Regions from separate parts of the Homo sapiens genome. Here region 1 is linked to region 2. Evidence: fine-mapped QTL for protein levels in blood plasma. A gene starts in region 2. The other region holds a variant in brackets. All regions are shown on one strand. Distances are from middle to middle.

Evidence for each region. PIP is the posterior inclusion probability: the model's chance that the variant is causal. Protein levels are from antibody-based Olink assays in UK Biobank. Linkage for the fine-mapping came from a reference panel and not from the study's own genotypes, which makes the PIPs less certain.
Region 1: its variant is fine-mapped to the plasma level of the SERPIND1 protein (UK Biobank, PIP above 0.99).

Annotation. Positions count from the first base shown.
Region 1 is chr22:20,669,827-20,679,252 of GRCh38, forward strand. It overlaps the pseudogene ABHD17AP4. Among named protein-coding and RNA genes, the nearest start is that of SERPIND1, 100 kb to the right of the region's middle. The variant G/T (reference allele first, on the strand shown) is at 5,604.
Region 2 is chr22:20,770,194-20,778,193 of GRCh38, forward strand. SERPIND1 (serpin family D member 1) reads left to right here and starts at 3,920. Exons shown (of 5, transcript NM_000185.4): 1 at 3,920-3,952. The region is part of intron 19 of PI4KA (phosphatidylinositol 4-kinase alpha); the gene reads right to left. RefSeq lists an enhancer at 7,608-7,902.

The DNA of each region.
Region 1 (9,426 bases), 100 kb before region 2:
CGGGTCTCCTCGTCCAAAGCAGCACTGGCCCGGGCGGTGCTCAAACACCGGTGAAGGGCCCAGGCAAGCGCAGGGCTGGGGACCTGGATGACTAGGAGGGCTGGATCTGGAATCGAGGCTGGCCCAGACCTCGGGTGTGTGCTGGGGGTCTGCACCTTACCCTGCAGGCCCTGCCCCAGGATGGCCAAGCTCCGCAGCCACAGGGCCTCATGGGCCAGGCCTCGGGACCTGGATGCAGCAGCCTCGCCTCACTTGGCCCCAAGTGCTGCCTCCGCAGATGGGCTCCCAGCCACACGTGCACAGACCCCCAGACCACCACCCACTCCCGACTGCCGGGTGGCATCCACGCCCCTGTGATAAGCTCAGCCCCTTCCCGTCCTCAGGCCAGGGGTTCCCAGGGAGCCTGGCTCCACAGGCCAGGGTGTGGGAGGACCGCCTGGCCACACCTCAGCCATGTGGAGGCGGCACCTGCACACCCAAGCTCGCCTGTCCGGCTCTCTGGCCCTGTGCATCCACTGTGGCTCCCCTCCTGCAGGGCCGCCCAACTTCCTCCCAGGGAAGCCCGCCCCCCGGCCCCCGGCTTGGTCCCCTCTTGGGTGTGCCCAGGCTGAGCTGCCCCCAGGGTCGCCCTCACCTGGTGCGCAGGGCCTGCCAGGCGGCGTCGATGTCGGCATAGAGGTTCCACTCGGAAGGCCTGCCCGCGCTGGCACCGTAGCCGGAGTAGTCGTAGATGATGTTGCAGTGGAGGCGGGAGTTCAGCCCAGTATAGAAGCTGCTCATCTGGCCCAGGTCCACCGCGTTGCCGTGCGAGAAGAAGACCGTGTACCTGGCACCAGGCACGCAGCGAACATACATGCAGGAGACGCGGTTGCCGTGGGCGCTCTTAGTGGGGAAGACCTCGATGGTGTCCAGCTCGCGCTGGCTGTACTGGAAGTCGGCGAGCTCCGTCAGGTGCAGCTTCCAGCGCCCGAGGAGGCCCGCAGGGTCCCCAAGGGGGCGGCCCCGGCCCCACCAGGCCCCGGCCCCACCAGGCCCGGGCTCAGGCACCAGGGAGTAGGTGGCCTCCGGCGGCAGGAAGGCGAGCTTGGCAGCGATGCGGCCGGGGCAGGGCGGGTAGCAGAAAAGGCAGCAGAGCTCACTCAGCGACAGCCCGTTCATGGCAGGCGCCTCCCGGGCCGGGCCTCCACCGGGGCCCCCGCCAACAACGCCGCCCGGCCTGGCCGGGCAGGGGAGGGGTGGGGGTGCTCCGAGTCGCGGGCAGGGGTGAGAGCCCCAGACGGCAGCCCCATTAGGAGGCCAGGGCCCAGCCCCATCGCGGTCCAAGCCGCCCCAGGGAGCCTCGCAACCACAGGTCTCCATGTCGTGCCGTGGGAAGGCCACCCCGGCCCGCGCCCCCGGGCCCCAGGGCCGCGCTCCATGGCTCCCGACCGCCCGCCCGTGCATCCGTCGGTCCCTCCGCGCCCCGGCCCGGCCTCCTGCACCGCCACCGCCGCAGCTCCCCCACGAACGGAAGCAAAATTTTTCTTAACGGGATGATAATTCACTAGTTTACCTCTAATGAGTCTCAGTATTTAATCTATCATGAAATTACGCGGCACCAAAATAAAATATAATTAGTTAAAACACAAAAATTATTTTATTGATTAATTTAGACATCAGATGTTTACATTATGAAATCAAGGTATTTTTTGGTTTTTGTTTTGTTTTTAGAATATTAGCAAATATTACCAAACATGAACCATAGTAAAAGTTCTTCAGTAACACTTTACCATTCCGTTTTCAAATAACCTGAATTTATGTGCCAGATTGAAAAGCTTTTACATGAGTGACCTATATTTCTGTATGTATCCAAATATTTGTATATCATGTAGACAAGCCAAGAAAATACACAGATATGTAAGCCATTGCATAGAATGGTAAAGAATACATTCTTAATAAGATGCATTCGCTTAATGCTCCAAACAGGTCTCTAGTATCTCAAATGCAGCATTCACCCACTATTTCCAAACATATCAGGGCCAGGTGCCATGGCTCATGCCCATAATCTTGGCACTTTGGGAAGTTGAGGTGGGTGGATCACTTGAGGCCAAGTTCCAGACCAGCCTGGCCAACACGGCAAAACCCTGTCTTTACTAAAACTACAAAAAAAATAAAAATAGCTAGCCATGGTGGCACACTACTATAATCCCAGCTACTCAGGAGACTGAGATACAAGAATCATGTGAACACGAGAGGCAGGGGATGCAGTGAGCTGAGCCGAGATCACGCCACTGCACTCCAGCCTGGGCAACGGAGCGAGTGAGACTCTGTTTCAAAAAAACAAAACCAAAAGCATTGTATCATGATATGTGACTAAGCTGAATTTAAAACACTGTAACATAAACTAGATGAAAAGTATTATACAAAATTTTTCTTTGTATTTCTATTTGTTTTGAATTTACCAACAATTCAAATCTTGCTGAGAATATTTGCACTATAAATATTTCTGTGATTATTGGTTATATTCAAATTCGCTCATTTTCAAAGCTACCTGTATAAAATTATTAAAATTGTACATAGCTTGGAATAAGAGTATGTTGAATATAATTGCCATGTGATACATTTATATTTAATAATTAAAGGCATATTACAACACTTACGCCTCATCTTAATGTTACTTAACCTTAGAAACAGAGTAAATGATAGGAATAATATGGGAGACAAACTGTGGAAAGCCACATTCTGTATATCTCTGTTGTTTTTATTAAACTTTTTTCCTACTGCACTTTAAATTTGTCATAGACCATTATTTTAGTAATTATTAATGTAATCTTACGTATGTATATTCTCTACCATCTTAGCAGGTTGAATAAAATACATGATTAAAGGCAAAAATGTGTGCAAGGAAAATATAGAATATTTAAGTTACAAAAAGCTACTCTTACTGAATCTCTTAAATTACAGCTTATAGCTAAAGAGTACAAACTATTGTAAAAGTTTTCTCCCATTTGTAAGTAATTACACATATAAAGTATCTCCCCATTCAGTAGATCTTATATTTCTTTGAGAAACATATATTAAATATAAAATATTCTGAATTCTAAATTGCATTTAAAATTGTTCATCATTGGTTATATTATGTAATTATAAGCAAGTACATTTAATGACTACATACTGTAAACTTTCTTTACCACGTGGCACAAATAGTTAATTTACCTTTTTTTTCTGTCTCTGTCTTCTATGTCCTAGGCTATTTCAGTTTTCTCACGAGTAGCCATTATTTTCAATGAACTACCAAAAAGTTATAAGGCAGCCACGATCAAACAAAAATGTTAGTAATATAGTATAGTATAAAGGTTTTTTATTTCTTAATTTATATTCCAAATTGTTAAATAATTTTATCATCCAGTCTTGATGTCTGAAAACATCTTAAAATAGAGAAGTTCACAGTATTAGATGCTGTATCTTTCTTCATCTAATGACAAAAGACTTTAGTTCTTTTCTCAATTTTAGGAGAAGTTTTGCTTTAAGACCAATAAAAACATAAGTTTACATAAGCTGAGAGCACGTTATGTATAGCTACTCTGTGGAAAACATTTTATTTTAAGAGCTATTAGGAACATCTTTTGAGAATATTCAAGCTATATATGATGCTGCAAATTTATTTTTATGGTTGCTATAACTGGCAAGGCAAGCAGATGATATGCTTGAAGCTATCTCGTGATGAGCACATCTGAGGGAATAAAGAAGGGCCTTCACAAGAAGAGGGAGGCAGCTGGTACATTCAGTAATGCATCATGAACACCAATGCAGTGGCTCCTGAGAAAGAGTCAATATAATACCTGGATTCCTTGTTTCTATCTCATATGTAATCCAGTTTCAGGGAAGTATAAAAGTGACAGGGATGGGGAGAGTATATGAACCATTAATATGAAATCTAAAGAAGTGCAGGCATCCAGCTGTCTGGTGTCTACTGAGGTCGTTCACCCAGATTAACAATACAGATACTTAGTTAAATTCTGAACTGCAGATAATGGGAAAGTAGGATTGTGGAAATCGGCTCCATCCAAATTATTACTCAGGTCTCCTCCTCTTCCAGATGCTGTCCCCACAGTATACTCAAGGTGTCTGATGACAGTGATGAGCAACTGAGGAATCATTTAATTACCAAGTTCTTCATCCTTACTTAAAAATGTAGAGTCACAAAATCATATATGAAAACACACTCTTTTTTTTTTTTTTTTTGAGATGGAGTCTCTGTTACCAGGCTGGAGATACTCTTTTTCAATAGAGTATGGCCTTCTGTCCACTCTCCTCTTATTCTTTCCAGAGTAGCAAGGTGTCCTTACGGCATACATTTAGCATAAAATTAGATGGGTTCCATTATAAAATAAAATGGAGACAGAATAAGTCAATACTGAATTCTTTGGTAAATCAAGCAAAGTCTTTAAAAATTTTTCTAGAAAATGGATTTATTTTTGTTTTTATTTAGTGTTTGTTTTATTTAGTTATTTTTAGTTTTTTTGTTTGCTTTTGCTTCATTGTTCTGCATTGCTAACTCGTTAAAATCACAAGCTATCTTATTGTATATTGAGTGTATTTGCAAGAGCTGTTTAGTGTTTTCTTCCCTAGTGAACCAACATAACGATTATTCTGCTATGAGTCTATGTTACGAAATATGTCTATGTCCTGCTATTCTCAGGCTTCATTTTTGCCTCTAAATCCTTCAGGTACTGTTGTTTTGGGCAGTGTAATGGATGTTTCTTCTTTTGTTCTTTCTGTGCCTTGAAAATTTCAGTAAGGAAATAAACTGGTTGTCAAAAACACCTGTTTGTTAAAATTGGAATCAGACTTTTTAAAGAAGAGATATACTTGGTTTCCTTGGCTAAATATTCAAAAGTTAATAGGATTTTTTTCATAGTATAACATAGTTTCAAAAGTTAAACGTAATTGTATTTAGTTTTATTGAATACCTACTTGTGTGGCATATTACATTTATTTTTGTTAATATTAAATTTAAACAATTTTAAGTATAAATTATTATATAGTGTGCAAATGTCTTTTTCATATAATGACTTCTTTTTCTCTGGGTATATACCCAGTGGTGGGATTGTGGATGAAATCTATTTATAGATCTTTAAGGAATCTCCATACTGTTTTCCATAGTGGTTGTACTAGTTTACATTCCCACCAGCAGTGTAAAAATGTTCCCTTTACACCATATTCATGCCAACATCTGTTGTTTTTTTATTTTCTTAATTGTGGCTATTCTTGCAGGAGTAAGGTGGCATCTCATTGTGGTTTTGATATGCATTTCCCTGATAATTAGTAATGTTGAGCATGTTTTCATTTGTTTCTTGGCCATTTGTGTATCTTCTTTTCAGAATTGCCTAGTCATACCCTTTGCCCACTTTTTGATGGGATTTGTTTATTCTTGCTGATTTGTTTGAGTTCCATGTAGATTCTGGATATTAGTCCTTTGTCAGATGAATAGTATGCAAAATATTTTCTCCTAATCTGTGGGTTGTCTGTTTACTCTGCTGATTATTTCTTTTTCTGTGAAGAGGCTTTCTAGCTTAATTTGGTCCTAGCTACTTATCTTTGTTTTTGTTCCATTTGCTTTT[G/T]AGTTCTTATTCATGAAGTCTTTGCCTAAGCCAATGTCTAGAAGAGCTTTTCTAATGTTATATTCTAGAAGTTTTATGGTTTCAGGGCTTAGATTTAAGTCTTTCATCCATCTTGAGTTGATTTTTGTAAAAAGTGAGAGATGAGGATCCAGCTTTTTTCTTCTACATGTGGTTTGCAAATTATCCTAGCACCATTTGTTGAATAGAATGTCCTTTCCCCACTTTGTATTTGCTCTGTCAAAGGTCAGTTGACTGTAAGTATTTGGTTTTATTTCTGGTTCTCTATTCTGTTCCATTTGTCTATGTGCCTATTTTTATACCAGTACCATGCTGTTTTGGTAACTCTAGCCTTGTAGTATAGTTTGAAGTTGGGTAATGTAATGCCTCTAGATTTTTTTTTTTTTTTTTTTTGCTTAGTTTTACTTTGGCTTTGAGGGCTTTTTTTTGGTTCCATATGAATTTTAGGGTTGTTTTTTCTAGTTCTGTGAAGAGTAATGATGGTATTTTGATGAGAATTGCATTAAATTTGTAGGTTGCTTTAGTCAGTATGGTCATTTTCACAATATTGATTCTACTCATCGATGAGCATGGGAGGTGTTTGCACTTGTTTGTGTTGTGTATAATCTCTTTCAGCAGTGTCCCTTAGTTTTCCTTTTAGAGATCTTTCATCTCCTTGGTTAGGTATACATTCCTAAGTATTTTATTTTTTGCAGTTGTTGTAAAAGAGGTTGAGTTCTTGATTTGATTCTCAGCTTGGTCATTGGAGGTGTATAACAGTGCTACCTCTGATTTGTGTACATTGATTTTGTATCCTGAAACTTGGCTGAATTCATGTATTAGATCTAAGAACTTTTTGGATGAGTCCTTAGGGTTTTCTAGGTATACAATCATATCATCAGTGAACAGCAGCAGTTTGACTTCCTCTTTACCTATTTGAATGCCCTTTGTTTCTCTTGTCTGATTGCTCTGGCTAAAATTTCCAGTACAATGTTGAATAGAAGAGGTGAAAGTGGATATCCTTTTCTTGTTCCAGTTCTTAGGCGAAATGCTGTAGATTTTTCTCTGTTTAGTATAATGTTGACTATGGATTTTTCATAGATGGCTTTTATTACCTTGAGGTATGTCCCTTCTATGCTTTTTCTGATGGTTTTAATCATAAATGGATGCTGGATTTTGTGAAATGGGTTTTTTTGCATCAATTGAAATCATATTTTTAAATTTTTAATTATTTATATGTGATTAATTACATTTATTGACTTGCATATGTTAAACCATCCCTTCATCCCTGATATGAAACCCACGTGATCATGGTGTATTATCTTTTTGATATAATGTTGGACTCAGCTAGTATTTTGTTGAAGATTTTTGCATCTATGTTCATCAGGGGCTGAACTATAGACCTACAGAGTCTGAACTATTGGTCTATAGTTTTCTTTTTTTGTTATGTTCTTTCCTGGTTTTGGTATTAGGGTGTTACTGGCCTCATAGAATGATTTAAGGAGGATTTCCTCTTTCTTTATCTTTTGAAATCATTTCAGTAAGATTGGTACCAATTCTTCGAATGCCTGATAGAATTCAGCTGTTAATCCATTTGGTCCTGGACATTTTTATTGTTGGCAATTTTTTTTACTATTGTTTCAGTCTCACTGCTTGTTACTTGTCTGTTCAGTTTCTTTCTCTTTTTTTTTTCCACGTAGGATCTCGCTCTGTCGCCCAGGCTGGAGTGCAGTGGCACAATCTGAGCTCACTGCAACCTCTGCCTCCCAGGCTCAAGTGATTCTCTTGCCTCAGCCTCCTGAGTAGATGGGATTACAGGTGTGCACCACCACACCCAGCTAATTTTTTTTATTTTCAGTAGAGACAGGGTTTTAACTCTGTTGGCCAGGCTGGTCTCAAACTCCTGGCCTCAAGTGATCTGCCCACCTCAGTCTCCTAAAGTGCTGGGATTACAGGTGTGAGCCACTATACCCAGTGCAGTTTCTATTTATTTGTGTTTTAATCTAGGAGGGTTGTATATTTCCAGGAATTTATCACTCTCTCTAAATTTTCTAGTCTGTGCACATAAGGGTGTTCATAGTAGCCTTGAATATATTTCATATTTCTGTGGTATTGGTTGTAATATTTCCCATTTCATTTCTAATTGAGCTTATTTGGATCTTCTCCCTTTTTTTCTTAGTTAATCTCACTAATGGTCTATTGATTTTGTTTATCTCTTAAAAGAATCAGTTTTTTGTTTCATATATCTTTTGTATTTTTGTTTCAATTTTATTTAATTCTGATCTTTATTATTTCTTTTTTCTTCTGGGTTTGGGTTTGGTTGGTTCTTGTTTCTCCAGTTCTGTGAGGTATGACTTTAGATTGTCTATTCATGCTCTTTGATGTAGGCATTTAATGCTATGAACCTTCCTCTTAATTTTGCTGTATCCCAGAGGTTTTAATAGGCTTTGTCACTATTATCCTTCAGTTCAAACAATTTTTTAAATGTTGCATAACAATGTTTATTTAGTTTTACATTTGTTTACAATTTCTTATAAACACTTTTCGTTATAATTTTATACAAACAACAGTAGGAGAAACAAGGAGCTAGAAAACATTAGAAAGTTGAGATTTGGAGGGAAGAATTTTAAAGACTGGAAGTACTAGAGGGAGAGAATCTAGAGAATGAAGGAGGCAATACTTGAAGAGATAACACAATGTTCCAAATTTGTTGGTAAAACATGAATTCGTAAATTCAGGAAACACAATATATACCAAACATATATTTAAATAAAATCCAGGCCTAGACTCAAGGTAGTAGTAAATGACAAGATACCAAACACAAGATTTTAAAAGCAACCATGGGGAGAAAAAGATCATCAATGAAGGCAAGACAGTCAAATCGTAGGCTTCGTAACAGCAACAGTGTACCCAAACAATTATTTTATTTATTTATTTATTTTTTGAGATGGAGTCTCGCTGTGTCGCCCAGGCTGGAGTGCAGTGGCGCAATCTTGGCTCACTGCAAGATCCGCCTCCCAGGTTCACGCCATTCTCCTGCCTCAGCCTCCCACCTAGCTGGGACTACAGGCACCCGCCACCACACCTGGCTAATTTTTTTTTGTATTTTTGGTAGAGACGGGGTTTCATCGTGTTAGCCAGGATGGTCTCGATCTCCTGACCTCGTGATCCGCCCGCCTCGGCCTCCCAAAGTGCTGGGATTATGGGCGTGAGCCACCGCGCCTGGCCATATTTATACTTTTTTAATACCACTAGGCTCAACCCGTATGATATTTTTTGCAGCAGCTTTCTTGAGATGTAATTCACATACCGCATAAATCGCCCATTTAAAATGTACAACCGAGCGGTTTTTAGCGTATTCATAGAGTCGCACATCACCACAATCAATTTTAGAACATTTTTATCACCCCCCAAAGAAATCCACATCCTTTAGCCGTCAACCTCCAATCCTTCCATTTCTCTGCACCTAGGCAATGTATAATCTACTTTCTGTCTGTATAGATTTGGGTACTCCGGATGTTTCACGTAAATGCAGTCATGCGACACGTGATCTTGTGGCTGGCTTCTTTCACTTAGCGCCATGTTTTCTAGTTTCACCCGTTTTCAGCATGTGTCCGTCCTTTTCCTTCTTTTCAAAACAGTTTTATTGAGATGCCATTCACATACCATGCAGTTCATTCATGTAAAGCATCTGTAATTCAATTGCCTTTAGAATATGCACAGTTACGTAGCCATCACCACAATACATTTTAGAACATTGGTATCACCTCAAATTCCTTTTTATTGCCAAATAATATTCCACTGTATGGATATACCACGTTGCATT
Region 2 (8,000 bases):
CCCAGTTTTTTTTTTTTTGGTAGAGATGGGTTTTGCTAGCCGGGAGCAGTGGCTCATGCCTGTAATCCTAGCACTTTGGGAGGCTGAGGCGGGCAGATCATCTGAGGTCAGGAGTTCAAGACCAGCCTGGGCAACATGGTAAAACCCTGTCTCTACTAAAAACACAAAAATTAGCCAGGCATGATGGCAGGCGCCTGTAATCCCAGCTACTTGGGAGGCTGAGGCAGGAGAATCGCTTGAACCCAGGAGGCAGAGGTTGCAGCAAGCTAAGATTGAGCCACTGCACTCCAGCCTGGGCAACAGAGCAAAAACTCCGTCTCAAAAAAAAAAAAAAAAAAAGAGAGAGAGAGAGATCGGTTTTGCTATGTTGCCCAAGCTGGACACGGACACACACACACACACACACACACACACACACACACACACACACACACACACAAGCTGGACACAGAGACACACACAGTGACAGGGCAAAGGTTCCAAAATTTTAAACCTGGTAAATCTGGGTACGGGTATACAGGAGTTGTTCTACTACACTATTCTTTCAACTTTTTTGAAAGTTTGAAGTTATTTCAAAAGAAAAAGTTTTCCAAACTTTAGTGATCCTCCTGCCTCAGCCTCCCAAAGTGCTGGGATGATAGGCATGAGCCACCGTGCCTGACCCCTCTGTATATTTTTAGAATTTCATGTTAAAAGATGGAAAAGTCTGGATGAGGTAGTTCACGCCTGTCTTCCCAGCTCTTTGGGAGGCCAAGGTGGGAAGACTGCTTGAAGCCAGACGTTCAAGACCAACTTGGCCAACATAGTGAGACCCCGCTTTTTTCTAACTAAAAAAATTTTTTTCCAAGTTGGAAAAAATATCTAGCCATAAGACAAACCTTGAAACTGCAAAAGAACAATGGAGTATGTGTGACAGGAGGTACTGCTCTACAGTGGGGTTAAAGCCATACACAAGCTGTGGTGGCTCACGCCTGTAATCCCAGCACTTTGGGAGGCCGATGCGGGCGGATCATGAGGTTAGGAGTTCAAGACCAGCCTGGCCAGCATGGTGAAACCCGTCTCTACTAAAAATACAAAACATTAGCCAGACGTGGTGGTGGGCACCTGTAGTCCCAGCTACTAGGGAGGCTGAGGCAGGAGAATGGCGTGAACCCAGGAGGCGGAGCTTGCAGTGAGCTGAGATTGCGCCACTGCACTCCAGCCTGGGCGACAGAGCGAGACTCTGTCTCAAAAAAAAAAAAGCCATACACAAGCTGTTACCACTAAATGGGAAAATGACTGAAAAATGTCAATGTCAAGAGGGACTGAAATCAAATTTTTCCAATAGTGGGTTACATGATCAGAAATCCAAATAGACAGGAAATATGTTGGCTTTATTTATTTATTTATTTATTTATTTATTTATTTAGACAGAGTCTCACTCTGTCACCCAGGCTGGAGTACAGTGGCATGAACTCGGCTCACTGCAACCTTCACCTCCCAGGTTCAAGCGATTGTCCTGCCTCAGCCTCCCGAGTAGCTGGGACTACAGATGTGTGCCACCACACCCAGCTAATTTTTGTATTTTTAGTAGGGACGGGGTTTTACCATGTTGGTCAGGCTGGTCTTGAACTCCTGACCTCAAGTGATCCACCCGCCTTGGCCTCTCAAAGTGCTGGGATTACAGGTGTGAGCCACCACACCTGGCCGGTACTGGCTTTAAAAATAACAAAAGTAATACATACACATAGAAAAAGGTCAAACAAAGAAGTACATAGAATGAAAAATGAATGCTGTGTCCCCTCCCAGACCATTTCTGTGAATAAATATGTAATACCATGAAATGATGAGGACTAACATTTTCTGAATGCCAGGCACCACTCTATGTGCTTTCCACACATTCATTAACCTCATTTAATTTTCTCATTTAATTAATGAGATAAATTAATGTATCTCATTTAATTTTCACAACAACCTCATGCAGTAGGTGTAACTGTCACCCTCATTTCAGAGAGCAGAATACTGAGAGCTGGAGGCCAAGGGGCAATTTCAGCCAGGGTGGCTGGTGACGCCTCGGTGAAACCAAGAGCGAACAGTGAGAGCAGCGGCCACCTGCTGGTCTGCAGGGATGGTGTCCTGGGCAGAAAGAATAGCAAGTGCCAGGGCTGTGCTGGGGCCGGGCTTTGCATGTGTGAGAACAAGACAGAGAATGAGGGAGGTGGGCCCACGAGGAGTGTGGGCACAGACAGCAGCCTCTGCCTGTGGTGCCACGCTGAAGACTCAGTATTGTATGTGACAGATGAAGGCTCTAAGAAGACAGCTCTGACAAAAGCTAGAGTGCAAAATCAGACTCAGACACAACCACCGGTCTGTGTCCTGAACACAATGGACCTTTACACTCTGGAATTTCTCAAACGGAGCAATGCACAGACACCCCCATGGGCCCCTTGCACACCCGCAGATTCTCCTAGGAGTCACATTCTCTCTTCAGATAGACTCTGGGTGCCGACACTCCCAAACATGCTCTTGAGGAGCAGTCTCTGTGATAAGCTGATCTTCCAGACAATCCAGAATATTCTTAAAACTTTTTAGATCATAAAATTTAAAACACAAATTAAAAAACAAATTATCATAAGGCCGGGCACAGTGACTCATGCCTGTAATCCCAGCACTTTGCAAGGCTGAAGCAGGAGGATCACTTGAGCCCAAGAGTTCAAGACCAGCCTAGGCAACATAGTGAGACCCTGTCTCTACAAAAAAGTCAAAAGTTAGCTAGACATGGTGGTGTGCACCTGTATTCCCAGCTACTTGCAGGGCTGAGGTGAGGAGGATTGCTTCAGCTCGGGAGGTTGAGGCTGCAGTGAGCCAAGATCACGCCACTGCACTCCAGCCTGGGTAACAGAGTGAGACCCTGTCTCAAAAAACACATAGGGCCAGGCGTGGTGGCTCACGCATGTAATCCCAGCACTTTGGGAGGCCGAGACGGGAGGATCACTTCACTCCAGGAGTTCAACACCAGCCTGGCCAACATAGTGAAACCCCGTCTCTACTAAAAATACAAAAAATTAGTTGGACATGGTGGTGTGCGCCTGTAATCTCAGCCACTCAGGAGGCTGAGGCAGGAGAACGCTTGAACTTGGGAGACAGAGGTTGCAGTGAGCTGAGATCGCACCACTGCACTCCAGCATGGGCAGCAGCGCGAAACTCTGTCTCAAAACAAACAAACAAACAAACAAACACCCATAAACACAAAATGTATCACAGCCTCAGAGATCCCCACGAATGCCTAAGTGGCCCTGAATTTGGGAGGCACTGCTCAGTAATAGTCCTATCTGTCCCACAACAGACAGGAGTGCTGGGCTGCACCTACTGGCAACAAACACAGCAACCCTTGACTGAAGAAAGGTCCATGCCACAATCCCCTTATTCTGTAAGCCACTAATTTTGTCCTCTCTCCTCCACCTTTCACTGAGGAACGAGCTCTTGGAAGGACAGGGACACCCGCCTAGTAGCTGAGCCAGCCACATCAGTCCTGGAGAGCAGGTGGAGGGCAGATGCTGTGATCATCCCAGAAGAGAGGACACAGTTGGAGGCAGATGCATGGTCTCTACTTTCAGCTACCCTCAATGCAGCCTGGTCCCCAGAGGCCTGAAGAGCGCCTTGTTTATGTGGTGACCTCAAGAGGGGCTGCTCCTGCACCAAGGCTATGTGTGCATGCTAACACAGTAACCGTCATATACTCAAAGTGTCAGCTCTAAGAACTGGAGATGAGGAGCTGCAAGCCACTCTACAGTTATCAAAGGCACAGCTGAGGGGGTTTGTGCTGACCAAGCTGGTTGCCTGGTGTTTGGATTGGGACTTATTTACTTTGGAAAATATGCAGCAACAGCCCAGCACCAAAGTTCACATCAAAATCCCACTGATGACCTTGGCTGCTTTCATCTCTGAAGCGCCACTTCTCAGAAACACAGAGGTAAGTTGGGTTTCTAATGTTTCTGCTGATTATAAATTATTTTTGGTGTTTACGGATAGGCAACTGGTTCATTTTTCTAGCAAACTAAGAATTCAGAAGCTTTCTACACTGTTTTAGAAGTGGGAAATGGTTTCATTTTTCAGTGTGCCTATTATAAAATTGTGTCAGTTCCATTGTTGGGAGAGTTGACAAACTTAGAATAGGAGCTGTGGAATAGATGAAAATATTGTACTTATATTAAATTAATCGAATTGGATAACTGTCCTGTGATTATGTATGAGAATATCCTTGCTCTTGGGTATTTTCCCTGAAGTATTAGTATTAAAGGTTAGAGGGGCCGGGTGCAGTGGCTCACGCCTGTAATCCCAACACTTTGGGAGGCCGAGGCGGGTGGATCACGAGGTCAGGAGTTCAAGACCAGCCTGACCAACATGGTGAAGCCAAGTCTCTACTAAAAATACAAAAATTAGCTGGGCGTGGTGGCACGCGCCTGTAATCCCAGCTACTCAGGAGGCTGAGGCAGGAGAATCGCTTAAACCCGGGAGGCAGAGGTTGCAGTGAGCGGAGATCGTGCCACTGCACTCCAGCCTGGACAACAGAGTTAGACTCCGTCAAAAAAAAAAAAAAAAAGAAGAAAAAAGAAAAAATGTTAGAGGAACAAGATATAGGAGACCTACTCTCAAATGGTCTAGAAGAAAAAATGTGTATGTGCATGCCTGTGAGAACACACACGTACGTACACACACACACAGATAATGACAGGGCAAAGGTTCCAAAATTTTAAACCTGGTAAATCTCGGTACGGGTATACAGGAGTTGTTCTACTACACTATTCTTTCAACATTTTTGGAAGTTTGAACTTACTTCAAAATAAAAAGTTTTCCAAACTTTAGGCAGTTACTTCTCTCCCATTCTGCCTGCTCTGTTGGGCCTGGAGACCATACACCAGGAGGGATGACGGTTTATCAAGTGTTATGCTCTGATGCGTGACTGAAAAGGCCAACCCAGCTCTGGCAATTAGCAAGAAAGCACAATATGAAGTTCCCAGGAAAAAAAAAAAGCAAAACAAACTTTTGAATGATTTATCTTTAAAATATATTGTTTCTCTTCAAACAGTAATCTGGATTTAATCACAACCTAGTGATAGTTTTTAAACGTCTTCTACAATGTTTGTTATACTAAATAGCAAAACATCAGGAAGATTTACCTTCAGATCTTTAATTTCAATCCATAAAAGATATCAGAGATATTTTCTCCTTCCTCTGGTAAGGGAATGACGAAAACTATTTTTGGCTTTTTATCAGATAATGTGGGAACAGGGTATAAGAAGTTTCCAAATATAACTTCTGAATACCGGGATAAAACATGCATGTCTTTACTCTGCCACTCTATCTGGCCTCAGATACGTTTTCCTGAATGCTTATTTATTCAAGTTGGTTTTTGTTTTGTTCTTTAACCTTATTTTTATCTGAGAAGAAAACATTTTCCCCCTTTGTTCCTTCTTCTTTTGGCTTTCTTTTTTAAAATAGAGATGAGGTCTTGCTATGTTGCTCCAGCTGGTCTTGAACTCCTGGGCTCAAGCGATCCTCCTGCCTTGGCCTCCCAAGATGCTAAGATTACAGGTGTGAGCCCCTATGCCTGGTCTTCTTCTTCTTGATCTTAGCCAAAAGGCCAAGAAGTGATAAGAGGAGGACACTTGAAGTGTAGTTGGGCAAGGAGCCTTCTACCAGCTGCTTACTTTCTTTGTTCCTGACTTTTAAAAGTGTGTTGCTATTGATACACAGTCTCCTGATATGTAAAATGCTGGGAGGATGAAGCTAAGTTACTCAAAGTGCCATTCAGAAACTGGGCCCAGTTCTATTTGCAGCTACATACATTAGAAATCATTTCTAGAGGCTGAGCATGGTAACTCATACCTGTAATTCCAGCACTTTGGGAGGCCAAGGCAGGAGAATTGCCTGAGCTCAGGAGTTTGAGACCTGTCTGGGCAACATGGTAAAACCCCATCTTTACCAAAAACACAAAAAATTAACTGGGTTTGGTGGCACACACCTGTGGTCCCAGCTACTTCAAAAGGCTGAGGTGGGAGGGTCTCTTGAGCCTGAGAGGAACAGGTGGCAGTGAACCAATATTGTGCCACTGCACTCCAGCCTGGGTGACAGAGTGAGACCCCGCCGTCTCAAAATAAAAATAAAAAGAAATCGTTTCTAGAAACTGTTTTCCCGTGTGTAAACTAGTGGCACTGCAGCCTGAGGCAGGTGCTGAGATGGGGACCTGGAAAAGGCAACAGGCATTTTGAGTCAGAAACAATGTGACTTTCCTGCTCCAAAATGTGCAATTCAAAAGTCTTTCTTAGTTGTGACTAAAACAAACTTTGAACTTACTATTTCAACAGTATTATAAGGGGAAGACCCAAGGAATGGGACTGGCACTGGGAAAACAGCTAGGAAGCTGCTCTGCACGGCCAGGGAGTCTGGAAGCATCCTGGTACTCCAGAGCGAACAAGGCTGAGCGCTTGATGTGGGGCTTAGAGGCTTAACCAACTTGGTTCGAATCTAGCCACTGCCACTTATTAGTGACAGTGACGAAAGGCTCAGTCTCCTGATATATAAAATGTTGGGAGGATGAAACTAAGTTACACGAAGTGCCTTATACAGCGTGTCAGGCATCCAACAGAGGCCATTATCAACATTAACCACACTGACAGCATTTCAAGCAGAGTATCCGAACAGTTACCCCATCTTCAGGCCTACTGAGTTCAAATATTTGCTTAACAAGAGCAGCCAGTAACTCTTACCTGGCCTCAACTGGCAGCAGATATTCTGGGCCTCAAATATCTATCTAATAGGAAATGGTCACAGACACAAAATAAGCTTAACAAAAGGCAGTTTTTTTTTGTTTTTTTTTTGTTTTCTGTTTTTTGAGATAAGGACTCACTCTATCCCCCAGGTTGGAGTGCAGTAGTGGCGTGATCACGGCTCACTGCAGACTCAAGTGATCCTCCTACTTCAGCCTCTCAAGTAGATGGGACCACAGGCGTGTGCCATCACACCAGGCTAATTATTTTTCTTTTCTTTTTTTTTTTTTTGAGACGGAGTTTCGCTCTTTTTGCCCAGGCTGGAGTGCAATGGTGCGATCTTGGCTCACCACAACCTCTGCCTCCTGAATTCAAACGAATCTCCTGCCTCAGCCTCCTAAGTATCTGGGATTACAGGCATGCGCCACCACGCCGGCTAATTTTTTTGTATTTTTTGTAGAGACAGGGTTTCTCCATGTTGGCCAGGCTGGTCTCGAACTCCCGACCTCAGATGATCCGCCCACCTCGGCCTCCCAAAGTGCTGGGATTACTGACCTGAGCCACCGCACCCAGCCTATTTATTTAATTTTTCACAGAGATGAGGTCTTGCTATGTTGCCCACACTGGTCTTGAGCTCCTGGGCTCAAGTGATCTTCCTGCCTTGGTCTCCCAGTGTTGGGATTATAGGCGTAAGCCACAGCGCCTGGCCGGCAGTTCTTTCTGGGGTGATTAGAAGTTGGGACCATGTATTACCTGTCTGAGTCAGCATTATAAACACCTATGGTCACTGTCCTGGCAAAACATGGAATCATCAAAGCTCATCTAACCAGAGTGCAGTTAATAACCAGGAAGTAAGCAAGAGAAAGACAAAGGATTTGGCAGTCAAAACAGATTTGACAGGCCAAGTCAGATCCTCCTCTGAACGAGTCAGAGGAACAAATAAAGACAGGATTGCCATAATGCCTCTGTGCTAAAAGCTTATCTTGTTTACTTAAATAAAGGGAGTGCCCCTCAGGTCTTGAGTAAGAGCTTGCTGACATCACCCTCACACAGACTTTATCTCTTGTTTCTAACCCTGTGTTAGAAGCAGTAACACAGAAGATTTAGTTGCTCCTGACAGCAGTGGGAGCTATTGTCTAAGAGATACAAAGGAGAAAAAAGTATACCTGCAGCAAGTGATATCACCTCTGGGGCTGCCACCACATCACCTCACTACGCCCTGAGGGGGTCTCAGCACTAGACAAGTTCCAA